Regions from separate parts of the Homo sapiens genome. Here region 1 is linked to region 2. Evidence: fine-mapped expression QTL. Tissue or cell type: blood mononuclear cells. Region 2 holds a variant in brackets; the other region holds the start of a gene. All regions are shown on one strand. Distances are between the middles of the regions.

Evidence for each region. PIP is the estimated chance that this variant, and not a neighbour inherited with it, causes the effect.
Region 1: it holds the start of SLC27A1, and the variant in region 2 is fine-mapped to the expression of SLC27A1 in blood mononuclear cells (TOPMed, PIP above 0.99). The same link has a PIP of 0.9 or more in whole blood.

The regions. Positions count from the first base shown.
Region 1 is chr19:17,467,909-17,473,984 of GRCh38, reverse strand. SLC27A1 (solute carrier family 27 member 1) reads right to left here and starts at 3,461. Exons shown (of 12, transcript NM_198580.3): 1 at 3,278-3,461. The coding sequence starts at 3,444. RefSeq lists enhancers at 2,344-2,845, 4,267-4,396 and a silencer at 3,387-3,516.
Region 2 is chr19:17,499,063-17,505,138 of GRCh38, reverse strand. It overlaps SLC27A1 (solute carrier family 27 member 1), which reads right to left. Exons shown (of 12, transcript NM_198580.3): 8 at 4,735-4,861; 9 at 4,507-4,644; 10 at 4,263-4,427; 11 at 3,720-3,866; 12 at 1-684. The coding sequence ends at 527. The region is part of intron 1 of PGLS-DT (PGLS divergent transcript); the gene reads left to right. Among named protein-coding and RNA genes, the nearest start is that of PGLS, 9.5 kb to the left of the region's middle. RefSeq lists enhancers at 3,911-4,779, 4,780-5,648, 6,001-6,076. The variant G/T (reference allele first, on the strand shown) is at 3,277.

The DNA of each region.
Region 1 (6,076 bases), 31 kb after region 2:
GGTGACAGAGTGAGACTTTATCAAAAAAACAAGAAACTTCTAATCCCAAAGCAAAGAAAGAAAACAACTAAAAATGCTGGGTTAAATGAGTTAAATCTTTGTTTTGTTTTGTTTTGTTTTTTGAGATGGAGTTTCGCTCATGTTGCCCAGTCTGGAGTGTAATGGCACGATCTTGGCTCACTGCAACCTCCACCTCCCAGGTTCAAGTGATTGTCTTGCCTCAGACTCCCAAGTAGCTGAGATTACAGGCGTGCACCACCACGCCCGGCTAATTTTTGTATTTTCAGTAGAGACAAGGCTTCGCCACGTTGGCCAGGCTGGTCTCAAACTCCTGACCTCAGGTGATCCACCCGCTTCGGCCTCCCAAAGTGCTGGGATTACAGGTGTGAGCCACCGCGCCCAGCCGAGTTAATTTTTTATTAATGTAGCAACAAGGTGATCAGAAAATAAGGACCAACCAGAGGCCAAAATGTCATTGTAGCCCCAGGAGGGGGACAGCTTAGGTGTCAGACAAGCAGGTTTGAGTCTGATAAGACCTCAAAGCATGCCCATTCAACATAAAGGTGAATTGGAAATCAAAATAAGATCTTTCCTTAACATACACACACCAGGAGCTAAAAGGAAATTTGGTATCTCAGACCTTGCTGTTAGGAGGAAGGGGTGAAATCTCGATCGATGACTCATAACCTCACATGAGTTTGCAACTCCAACTGCACCATCTGGCTGTCTGAAAGTCAAGTAGACAATATGGTTCAAAGCAGTTCACGCTGGGCGCGGTAATCCCAGCACTTTGGGAGGCTGAAATTGGGTGATCGCTGGAGGCCAGGAGTTCGAGACTAGCCTGGGCAACGTGGCAGAACCACGTCTCTACAAAAAATAAAAAAATTAGCCAGGTGTGGTGGTGTGCACCTGTCATCCCAGCCACTTGGGAGGCTGAGGTAGGAGGATCGCTTAAAGCCAGGAGTTCCAGACCAGACTGGGCAATATAGCGAGACCTCATCTCTATAAAAAACATTCTATTAACTATCCAGGAGCGGAGGCAGGCGTTTGTAGTCCCAGCTAGTCAGGAGGCTGAGGTGGGAGGATTGCTTGAGCCCAGGAGATGGAGGCTGGTCCACCCTGGGCAACAGAGAAGACACCCTGTCTCAAAAAAAAGGGAGCCAGGCATGGTGGCTCATGCCTGTAATCCCAGCACTTTAGGAGGCCAAGGCAGGCGGACTACGTGATGTCAGGAGTTTGAGACCAGCCTGGTTAATACGGTGAAACCCCATCTCTACTAAAATTACAAAAATTAGCTGGGCATGGTGGCACGTGCCTGTAGTCCCAGCTACTTGGGAGGCTGACGCAGGAGAATCACTTGAACCTGGGAGGCAGAGGTTGCAGTGAGCCAAGATCGCACCACTGCACTCCAGCCTGGGCGACGGAGTGAGACTCTGCCTCAAACAAACAAACAAATGAGCAATAGACAAAAGGTAAGTGCAGCTAGGCGACAAAAGGGAAGTAAGCGGAGGCTGGGACATGGTCAGGGACCTCGTGCGCAATGCTCAGGAGTATGGCCTCAATTCTAATTCTATTTTTTTTTTTTTTTTTGAGACGGAGTCTCACTCTGTCGCCCAAGCTGGACTGCAGTGGCATGATCTCCGCTCACTGCAAGCTCCGCCTCCGGGGTTCACACCATTCTCCTGCCTCAGCCTCCCGAGTAGCTGGGACTACAGGCGTCCACCACCACGCCTGGCTAATTTTTTTGTATTTTTATTAGAAACGGGGTTTCACCGTGTTAGCCAGGATGGTTTTGATCTCCTGACCTCGTGATCTGCCTGCCTCGGCCTCCCAAAGTGCTGGGATTACAGGCGTGAGCCACCGCTCCCGGCCAGTATGGCGTCAATTCTAAGGGCAACAAGGAGCTATGGGAGGGTGCTGAGCAGGAAAATTCAGCAAAGGTTCCCAGAGGGAGAGCCTGCCCTGGCTAAAAGGGGTCCAGTATGTTCTGGGCAGCTTGAGCTTGACACTGCAAGTCTTTCTGAAGACCAGGTGAACATATGGATGGGGGGAGTGGCAGGTGGGCAGGGAACAGATGGTAGGACCTTGAGTGCCCAGCTAGGGGCTGAGTCTTCCTTCTGCCAAGGATGGGCTGGCCATGGAAGGTGTCTGAGCAGAGGGCACAGTCAGATTTCCACATCAGAACAACCAAGGAGCCGGGGGCAGGGGGCCATGGCATGCAGAAGGGGTGAGTTTTAGAAAGTTCAGAACCAGTCAACTTACGGTGGGATCTTTCCCATCTCCACACCCTCTGTGCCCTCCTTACAATGGGTTCAGTCCCTCTTGCTACTCCATCTTACAAGGAGCTGTGAAGGTGTTGAGCCCTGCCCCGCTAGCCGGCGCTCACCTGCTCCCACGTGGTGCTGTTCCTGAGGTCTGCTCTGATAGAAGCCCCCAGCAATGCCTGTTTCATCCCAGAAGGACCCCCAACGGCTCGTTTGAGCAAGTCCCTCAGAGACACCGCAAAAACCCTCCAAGGATCCTTGCACAGGACACCAGAATCTGCCCCCCTAGCATGAATCCAGTGTCCCAGTCTCCAGAAGAGACCCCCCAAACAAGTCCTGGAATACACAGCAGCCTCCCGACACACTCCGAACAACTCCCAAACCCAAAGTCCCACACAGACCCCAAAATCTCAAACAGTGCCCCAGCTGTAAACGATCCCGAGGAAACTCACACCTTCAGAAACCCGGGAAGTCCTTTATAGAGCAGCTCGCTCATCCCTCAGAGAAAGCCCTAGATAGACCCAAAGTGTCTTGGCAACCCCCCAGAGACTATCTATTGGGTCGTCCCTGTGAGCCCCGGTGACCTACTGGAGAGCCCCCTGAAGTCTCTCACAGTTATCACGGCTCCAAAAAGACCCCCACACCGCCACGGATTTCCAGTCAGCCCCAGCTCCCTGGAATTTCCACCAGTTGCCCAAAGACCCCCAAATTGCCCCCCAAATCCCCTGAGATCATCTCCTAAGCAGCCTGCAACGCCCGAAGCACCTTAGAGGCTACTCATCTTCCTCGAGAAATCCTTAAAGTGTCCCCTGTAGCCCCCTCAGAGACCCCCAACTGGTCACCCTCTCAGGCCCCGCCCCCGCCCAGCCCTCGGCCCAGCCCCGCCCCCAACCTACAAAGCACCCTCAGCTCTCCGGACCCTCCAAGCCGTCCCCGCAACCCAGCCCTGCACCGTGCGCCCCCAGAGCCCTCAGCCCCGCCCCCAGCCCTGGACGGATCCCGGCAACACTCACAAGAGGTCTCGCCTCGCGGTCTTGCAGACGATGCGCAGGAAGCGCCAGCCGCCGCTGCCCACGTACACGCCGAGCGCCGCTGCCGCGCTCCAGGTCCACGGCAGCCCCAGCAGCCACAACAGCGCCAGCGAGACCACCGAGGCCGCGCCCGCACCCGGAGCCCGCATCCTGGGGAAGCAGAGAGAGCTGAGGCCGCGGGCCGCTCCAGCCCCGCCCCACGACCCGCTCCGCCCCACGACCGCCCCCGCCTCTACAGCGAGCCGCGCCCCCAGGCCTCGGCTCTGCGCCCCCCGCGAGTCCGGGAACGCGCTCCGAGTCAGACTCCGCCCCCAGGCCTGGGATTGGTCAACTCCTCAGGCCAGGCATCGCCCCTTTCCAGGCTTTTACACCCGCCCGCTAACTAGGAACCAGACCAGGGCCCCAGGCCTGGGATTGGCCAGGTCCTGGCCAGGCTCCGCCCCCGGACCCTGGGTCCGCTCTATTCCATATTTTTGAGCCCATCCTTCCCTGCCAATCTTACAACAGTCCCCGCCCCCAGAGCCAGCATGTCCACCTTGTCGGTCACTGTCAGGCCTCGCCACATGCCTTCATCTAGCCTCTATCCTCGATCCCCGAATTACCCTTCACGTCCTGTCCCCTTTCCTCCTGGTCCTGCCTCTACCCCGTGGCCTTTTCACCACTCACTGGGCCCCGCCCTTAGGTTATGCTTCTAGCCCAGCCCACAGGTACAAGCCCTCTCCCCGAGTCCCGCCCCTCTCAGCCAGGCCCCACCCCCTAGGTTAGACATATGCCTCCCCACCCCCCCGCAATAAGCACACGCCCCACCCTCCCGAAACTAGAGCCCTCCCCAATCCGTTCAAGCCCCACCCCAGTTCCGGGCCTAGCCCAAGTTCCCAGGCTCAGGTTCTATCCTGGCCACGGGCCCCGCCCTCAGGCTTTGGCTCGGTCGCCACCTCCTGGGTTTCACTCCGGCCCCCCTAGGACCTAGGCCCCGCCCCTCTTCCCTCCTGTCTACTTCGAAGCCCCTCAGCCCGCAGAGCCGAGGCCGGCCGTCTTCCAGAAGCCACGACCATAGAGAGGCAACCGGACCGGAGAGGCGACGGCCAAAGAGACATGGGTGCTAGAACGGCCCGCCAGGGTCGTCCGCTGTCTCCATGACAACCAAGCCTTGCCCCACCCCCTCTCCTTTTAGGAAACACACGTGTCCTGCAGCCTTGGGGCGTGGCTCGCAAGATATCAGGACCCGAGCCCTAGTTGGCGTGCAGGATCTCTACCCCGGGGGACCAAAAATATCCCAGTCCACACCCACGGCCCGCGCGGGCTGTATTCTTGCTCCAGCTTGTCCTAAATCCAAGCCCCAAAGCCTCTTTCGGTCTTAAAAACACGTTCCAGGGCCCGGGGGAGTGCTCAACTCACACCATTGGGGCCTCAGAAGTCTCTAACTGTAAACACCGCCGCGGTCTTAACACGTGTGATTCAAGGACACAGCTAATTCTTAATCCATGTCCCGAAGCCTTGTCGGTTAAGTCTCACCGTCACACCCCAGGATCCCAGGGAGGACAAAATCCACACGCCAGGTCCCCATCCTTCCTAGAAGCACCTACAGGCCCTTTACTTGCACCCCGGGGTCCTAGATGCTCCCCCAGGCGCTGCCAGCGCTGGCCTGGGGGCACGCACAACCCCATTCTCTGGCTGACCTGAAGCTGCAAGCCGTGCCTTCAGTCTCCCAGAAGCTCAGGCAGGAGGCAGGCAGGGACTAGGAGGCTGAGGCCGGGGACCTTTCTGTTTCTGCAGACTCCTGGACCCTTCTTGGGTGCGCTGTGCCTACTGTGCGGGCTTCTGCTTTGGGGTCCTTCCCTTCCAGCTCCCCCTCCTCTGCCCCACTGCCGACTCCACCACTGCTTGTTTTCTGCTCTCCTTGGCCGACCTTTCCAGCGTTCTCCTTAGGAGGCGGCCCGGGCCTGATTCCAATGCATTTGGAGGACAGGGCTGGGCAGGCACTCACCCCCTACGCTGCCATTGGTCCCTGCGGGCAGCAGGGTGGCTGGAATGAGGGATCACGAGGAAGATCCGGAGGACAGGCCCAGAGCCAGCCACTGGCCTGCTGCTTTCTGGGCCTGGAAGAGTCAGCAATGACCAGTAACTGCAGTTGCACTCTTACCTAGCCAGGTAGCACCGCTGTGATCACCCCATTTGACAGGTAAAGAAACTGAGGGCAGGCTGGGCGTGGTGACTCACGCCTGTAATCCCAGCATTTTGGGAGGCCGAGTTGGGTGGATCACTTGAGGCCAGAAGTTCGAAACCAGCCTGACCAACATGACGAAACCCCGTCTCTACTAAAAATACAAAAATTAGTCAGGCATGGTGGAGCACACCTGTAATCCCAGCTACTCCGGAGGCTGAGGGAGCAGAATCACTTGAACCCGGAAGGCAGAGGATCCAGTGAGCCGAGATCGCGTCACTATACTCCAGCCTGGGTGACAAAGCAAGACCCTGTCTTAAAAAAAAAAAAATAGAAGAGAGAAAGAAAGAAAGAAAAGAAAGAAACAAAGAAAGAAGGAAGAAAGAAACTGAGGACTGGAGCTGTCATGCTTACTTGGAATTGAGATTCATTCATTCATAAATGTCAGCTGAGTGTTCCCTGTCCCTCCTCCCCTCCTCTCCTCCTTTCCCTCCTCCTTCCTCTCTTCTTACCCCTCCTCCTCCTTTTTCTTCTCTAAACTTCCCCTCCACCTTTCTTGTGCTCTGATTCTCTCTTCTCTTACCCCACTTCCTCCTTCTCTCTTTCTCCCTCCTTCT
Region 2 (6,076 bases):
GCGGATCACCTGAGGTCAGGAGTTCAAGACCAACCTGACCAACATGGTGAAACCCCGTCTCTACTAAAAATATAAAAATTAGCTGGACGTGGTGGCGGGTGCCTGTAATCCCAGCTACTCAGGAGGCTGAGGTGGGAGGATCACTTGAACCCCAGGAGGCAGAGGTTGCAGTGAGCCGAGATCCCACCACTGCACTCTAGCCCGGGCAGCAGAGTGAGACTCTATCTTAAAAAAAAAAGAAAGAAAGAAAGAAAAGAAAAAGAGGGAAGAGTTAAGGCCAGACAGGGACAGGGATGGAAGGAGACAGAGGCTGAAAAGCAGGGAGAGGAGGCAGACACAGGGGCACCAAGGCAGCAGAGAGGCACGGGTTCCTCTGAGGTTCCAGTTTCTCAGTCCAGGATGGGCCGTGCCAGGTACAGCTCGGCCAGGTGGGTGTGTACTAGGCGGCCACCCCTGGGCAGCGCTGTCTGGCTCAAGCTGGCCTCTCCCACCAGGCCCAGAGTTTGTGGCCAGTAGAGGAACAGCTTCAGAGGGCGAAGGCGCCCGAGCAGATGCGAGTGTAGACTGCCTCATTTAAGGGCAGGTAGTGGCCCTGCTTCAGGTCCAGGAAGAAGAGCCGGTCTGAGGTCTGGCGTGGGTCAAAGCCCTCTCGCTGCAGCCTCGTCTTCTGGATCTTGAAGGTGCCTATAGTGGGGATGGGGGGCAGATAAGGGCTGAGCAGGTGGCTTCTGGGAGGCCTCAACTCAATATCCTCTCCTGCACCTCTGGACCTTCCCACAGGCTGTCCCCTGGGCAGGAATGTTCTTCCCCATTTTGCCTGCCTGATTCCCCCTTGTCTGTCAGATCCTGGCTTCATGCCCCCTCCTCCAGTGAGGCCTCCCTAACCACTCCTCACCAGGGCAAGAAAATGTACACCCTGCCTGGTCATGTGTCCATTCCCCACATGACAGGCAGGGCTGTGTCTGTTACACAGTGAATAAGAGTTTAGCAACTTACATCCTGTGGGCCAAATTTGGCCCTCCACCTGTTTTTGTAAATAAAGTTTTACTGGGGCCGGGCACAATAATGGCTCATGCCTATAATCTCAGTACTTTGGGACGCCAAGGCAGGAGGGTCGCTTGAGCCCAGGAGTTTAAGACCAGCCTGGGCAACATAGTGAGACTCTGTCTCTGCAAAAACCCTTTTTTTTTTTTTTTTTTTTTTTTTTGAGACATAGTCTTGCTTTGTCACCCAGGCTGGAGTGCAGTGGTGTGATCTCGGCTCACTGCAACCTCCACCTCCTGGATTCAAGTGATTCTCCTGCCTCAGCCTCCCAAGTAGCTGGGATTATAGGCGTGCACCACCACACGTGGCTAATTTTTAAAATTTTGGTAGAGACAGGGTTTCACTATGTTGGCCAGGCTGGTCTCGAACTCCTGACCTCAAGTGATCTGCCCGCCTCGGCCTCTCAAAATGCTGGGATTACAGGCGTGAGCCACCGCACCCGGCCAACAATTTTTTTTTTTTTTTAAATTAGCTGGGTGTCATGGCACGTGCGTGTAGTTCCGGCTACTTGGGAGGCTGAGGTGGGAGAATCACTTGAGCCCAGGAGGAGAAGACTGCAGTAAACTATGATTGCATTATTGCATTCCAGCCTGGACAACAGCAAGATCTTGTCTCAAAAAATAAATAAAAATTTAGAAATAAAGTTTTATTGGCACACAGCCATGCTCATTCATTTGCACATTGTCTATGGCTGCTTTTGCACAAGAATAGCAGTGTTGAATAGCAATCGAGGCTGTATGGCCTGCAAAGCCGAAAATATTAACTATCTGGTCCTTTAAGAAAAAGTTTGCCTGAGCCCAGGACTGCGAGACCAGCCTGGGCAACACAGTGAGACCCTGATATATTTTGGCTGTGTCCCCACCCAAATCTCATCTTGAATTGTAGCTCCCATACTTCCCACGTGTTGTGGGAGGGACCCGGTGGGAGGTAGTTGAATCATGGGGGTGGGTCTTTCCCGTGCTGTTCTCATGATAGTGAAGGGGTCTCACGAGATTTGATGGCTTTATTTGGTGGTTTTTAAAGGGGAGTTCCCTTGCACACACTCTCTTGCCCTCCACCATTAAAAAGTCCCTTTGCTTTTCCTTCGTCTTCTGCCATGATGGTGAGGCCATCCCAGCCATGTGGAACTGTGAGTTCCATTAAACCTCTTTCCTTTATAAATTACCCAGTCTCGGATATGTCTTTATTAGCAGCATGAGAATGGACTAATACAGACCCCATCTCTACAAAAAATCAAAAAAATTAGTCAGGCATGGTGGTGCCTGCCTGTAGTCCTAGCTACTCCAGAGGCTGAGGTGGGAGGATCATTTGAACCCAGGAGGCTGAGGCTGCAGTGAGCTATGATAGTGCCACTGCATGCCAGCCTGGGCAACAGAGTAAGACCCTGTCTCAAACAAACAAACAAACAAAAAAAACAAAAGAAAAAGAAAAGATACACCGAGGCCGGGTGCAGTGGCTCATGTGTGTAATCCCAACACTTTGGGAGGCCAAGGCAGGTGGATCACTTGAGGTCAGGAGTTCAAGACCAGCCTGGCCAATATGGTAAAACTCGATCTCTACTAAAAATACAAAAAAATTAGCTGGGCATGGTGGTGCACACCTGTAATCCCAGCTATTCAGGAGGCTGAGGCAGGAGAATCGCTTGAACCCAGGAGGTAGAGGTTGCAGTGAGCCAAGATCACGCCACTGCACTCCAGCCTGGGTGACAGAGCAAGACTCCATCTCAAAAAAAAAAAAAAAAAAAAAAAAACAAAAAAAACACTATTTCAGAATGCTTAGTGGCAGTGGAAGTGAGGAATGGAAATAAATAACTACTAAAATAAAACAGCAGAAGGGACCCGTGAGAGCCCACAGTGCTAGCTGGCTGTGAGCCCTTGTGTCAGTCCCAGGACACTGTCCTGAACTAGGATGAGTAAATGGTTTGGATATGGTTTGTTTGTCCGCACCAAAAATCATGTTGAAATTATTATTATTATTTTGAGACATTGTCTCACTCTGTCACCCAGGCTGGAGTGCAGTGGCCTGATCTCGGCTCACTGCAACCTCTGCCTCCCAGGTTCAAGCAATTCTTCTGCCTCAGCCTCCTGAGTAGCTGGGACTACAAGTGCATGCCACCATGCCTGGCTAATTTTTTTTTGTATTTTTAGTAGAGACACAGTTTCACCATGTTGGCCAGGCTGGTCTCGAACTCCTGACCTCAGGTGATCCACCTGCCTCAGCCTCCCAAAGTGC[G/T]GAGATTACAGGCGGGAGCCACCACACCCGGCCAGGTATTCTTTTTTTTTTTTTTTTTTTGAGACAGAGTATCACTCTATCGCCCAGGCTGGAGTGCAGTGGCGTGATCTGGGCTCACTGCAAACTCCGCCTCCCAGGTTCATGCCATTCTCCTGCCTCAGCCTCCCAAGTAGCTGGGACTACAGGCACCCGCAACCGTGCCCGGCTAATTTTTTGTATTTTTAGTAGAGACAGGGTTTCACTGTGTTAGCCGGGATGCTCTCGATCTCCTCACCTCGTGATCCGCCCGCCTCGGCCTCCCAAAGTGCTGGGATTACAGGCGTGAGCCACCGTGCCTGGCCCCGGCCAGGTATTCTTTTAGAGCAACACAAAATGGACCAAGACATGAATCAACAGACACACTGATGGATGAAGAGAGAGATTGGAGTGGGGGAGACTCGCACCTGTGGTGTCCACCTGGGGCAGGAGGCGCAGGAAGATGGGCCGGGCATAGGGTGCCAGCACCTTCTGCAGCTCCTGGTATATCGCGTTGGGGTCCAGCAGGCTGTGGGGGTCTGCGACGGCCGCCATCCCTGCCTTACCCTCCACTCCTGGAGGCAGAGGCTCAGCTGAGGACACCCCGCCTCTCATCCTCCCCACCAGCAGGACCAGATACACTGTCAAGCAGTAGCCCCTGGTCTGTAATCTCCAGTCTCTCCCAACCTGGGATGACATTTATGGAAGCAGCCACACATTTTGTGGAGCTCCTGCTTGGCTCATTGAAGCCCTAAGACAGGTGGGCTTTCATGATCCCATTTTCTGGATGACAAAACTGAGGCTCAACATCACCCAGGTGAACTGGCTCCAGATCCAGTGCTTCCTCCTGGGCTGCCATGAGCAGTTGTCCAGGTTGTGCACTGCCCAAAGGCATGTGTACTTCTAAGCCCCTTTTGGCTGAGCTCCCTCAGGACCATGCCTCAGGACCACCCCCTGCAACCCCAGCTTGCCTGGAACAGCCACCCCATAGACGGCCACGTCTGTCTGGCCCAGCAGGCGGCTCAGCACGCCCTCCACCTCGGTGGTGGAGACGTTCTCCCCTCGCCAGCGGAAGGTGTCCCCGCTACGGTCCCGGAAGTACATGTAGCCCAGCTCATCCATCACTAGCACGTCACCTGGCAGAGGGGAGAGGGGCAGATGGGTGGAGGATCCCCATCCGCACAGCCAGTCACCGGGGCCTAGCAGGCTGCGCACCTGAGAGGTAGGCGCTGTCGCCCTTGCTGAAGACGCTGTGGGCGATCTTCTTGCTGGTGGCGCTCTCGCTGACATAGCCATCGAAGCGGCGCAGCGGGTCCTGTTGGTTGATCTGACCCACAAGGAGGCCAGGCTCCCCTAGGGAGAAGGCCATGTTCAGGCTGCGCTAGGCAGGCAGGGCGTGGGGACCCCTGCTCCGGGTGGGGACCATGCGGGGGCCCTGCTCACCGGCCTGGCAGGGGATGCAGAGGCCCTGGGCATCCCGCAGCAGCTCCATTGTGTCCTCATTGACCTTCACCAGCCGGATGGGGTACACGTGGGGCAGGATGCGGCTGTTGAAACCACAGGAGCCGACCTGGAATGGGGTGAACTGAGTTGGAAGGAGCCGGGGATATGCGGGGTCCTTCTCAGTAACACTTTGCCTGCCTTGCCCTGGGGCTTGGACCTAGCACCTCCAGTGTCATTCTAAGCTCTGTGACCTTGGCTGATCTGCAAAAGCAGGGTAGTAAGCGTCGCCTCCAACTCAGGGCCCCTCCTCCCACCTTCCCAGCCTGCATTCAGTCAAGAGAAGACCTCTGGCTGGCACCCACTTCCTGATCCACAAAACCCTCCATGCTGGCAGGAAGTAGATGCCTCTGTGTGGACACTACAGCTACGTCAGACACTGCAGAGCTTCACCTGCTGCCCGCCGCCCTGCTTGGCATGGTTCTATGAACAGAAATGCTTCTCCAACATGTTTGAGCCACTACACCCTGTCTGGTGTGTTTCTTTCTGCTTTTCCCCCTTCCTCCGTTCCTCCCTTCCTTCCTTCCTTCCTTTTTTTATAGAGTCTTACTCTGTCGCCTAGGCTGGAATGCAGTGGCGCAATCTTCGCTCACTGTAACCTCTGCCTCCCACGTTCAAGTGGTTCTTATGCCTCAGCCTCCTGAGTCTGGGATTACAGGCGCATGCCACTGAGCCCAAACAATTTTTTTTTTTTTTGTATTTTTAGTAGAGATGGGGTTTTGCCATGTTGGCCAGACTGGTCTCGAACTCGTGACCTCAAGTGATCCACCCACCTCAGCCTCCCAAAGTGCTGGGATTACAGGCGTGTGTGGGTGGCAAGCTACCCAGGTGCCGAGGCAAGAGACCGAGGGCACGAGCCATTCCAGTATAATAAAATATATAAAACAACAAGAGTTATACTAGATCTAGATCATAGACATGATTATATATGAATATCATTAGTCATCAGTTTGTAGCAATTACTCTTTATTCCAGTATTATAATAATCCTCGCTCTGTAATCATAACCTAGAAAAAACCGGGCCATAGAGAGATAGGAGCTGAGGGGACACAGTGAGTAGTGACCAGAAGACAAGAGTGCGAGCCTTCTGTTATGCCCGGACAGGGCCACCAGAGGGTTCCTTGGTCTAGCGGTGACGCCAGCGTCTGGGAAGTCTAGTCTAGCGGTAGCCTTAGTGTCAAGGAAAAACACCTGCTACTTAGTGGACCGGGAAAGGGAGTCTCCCTTTCCCCCGGGGAGTTTAGAGAAGACTCTACTCCTCCACCTCTTGTGGAGGGCCTGACAT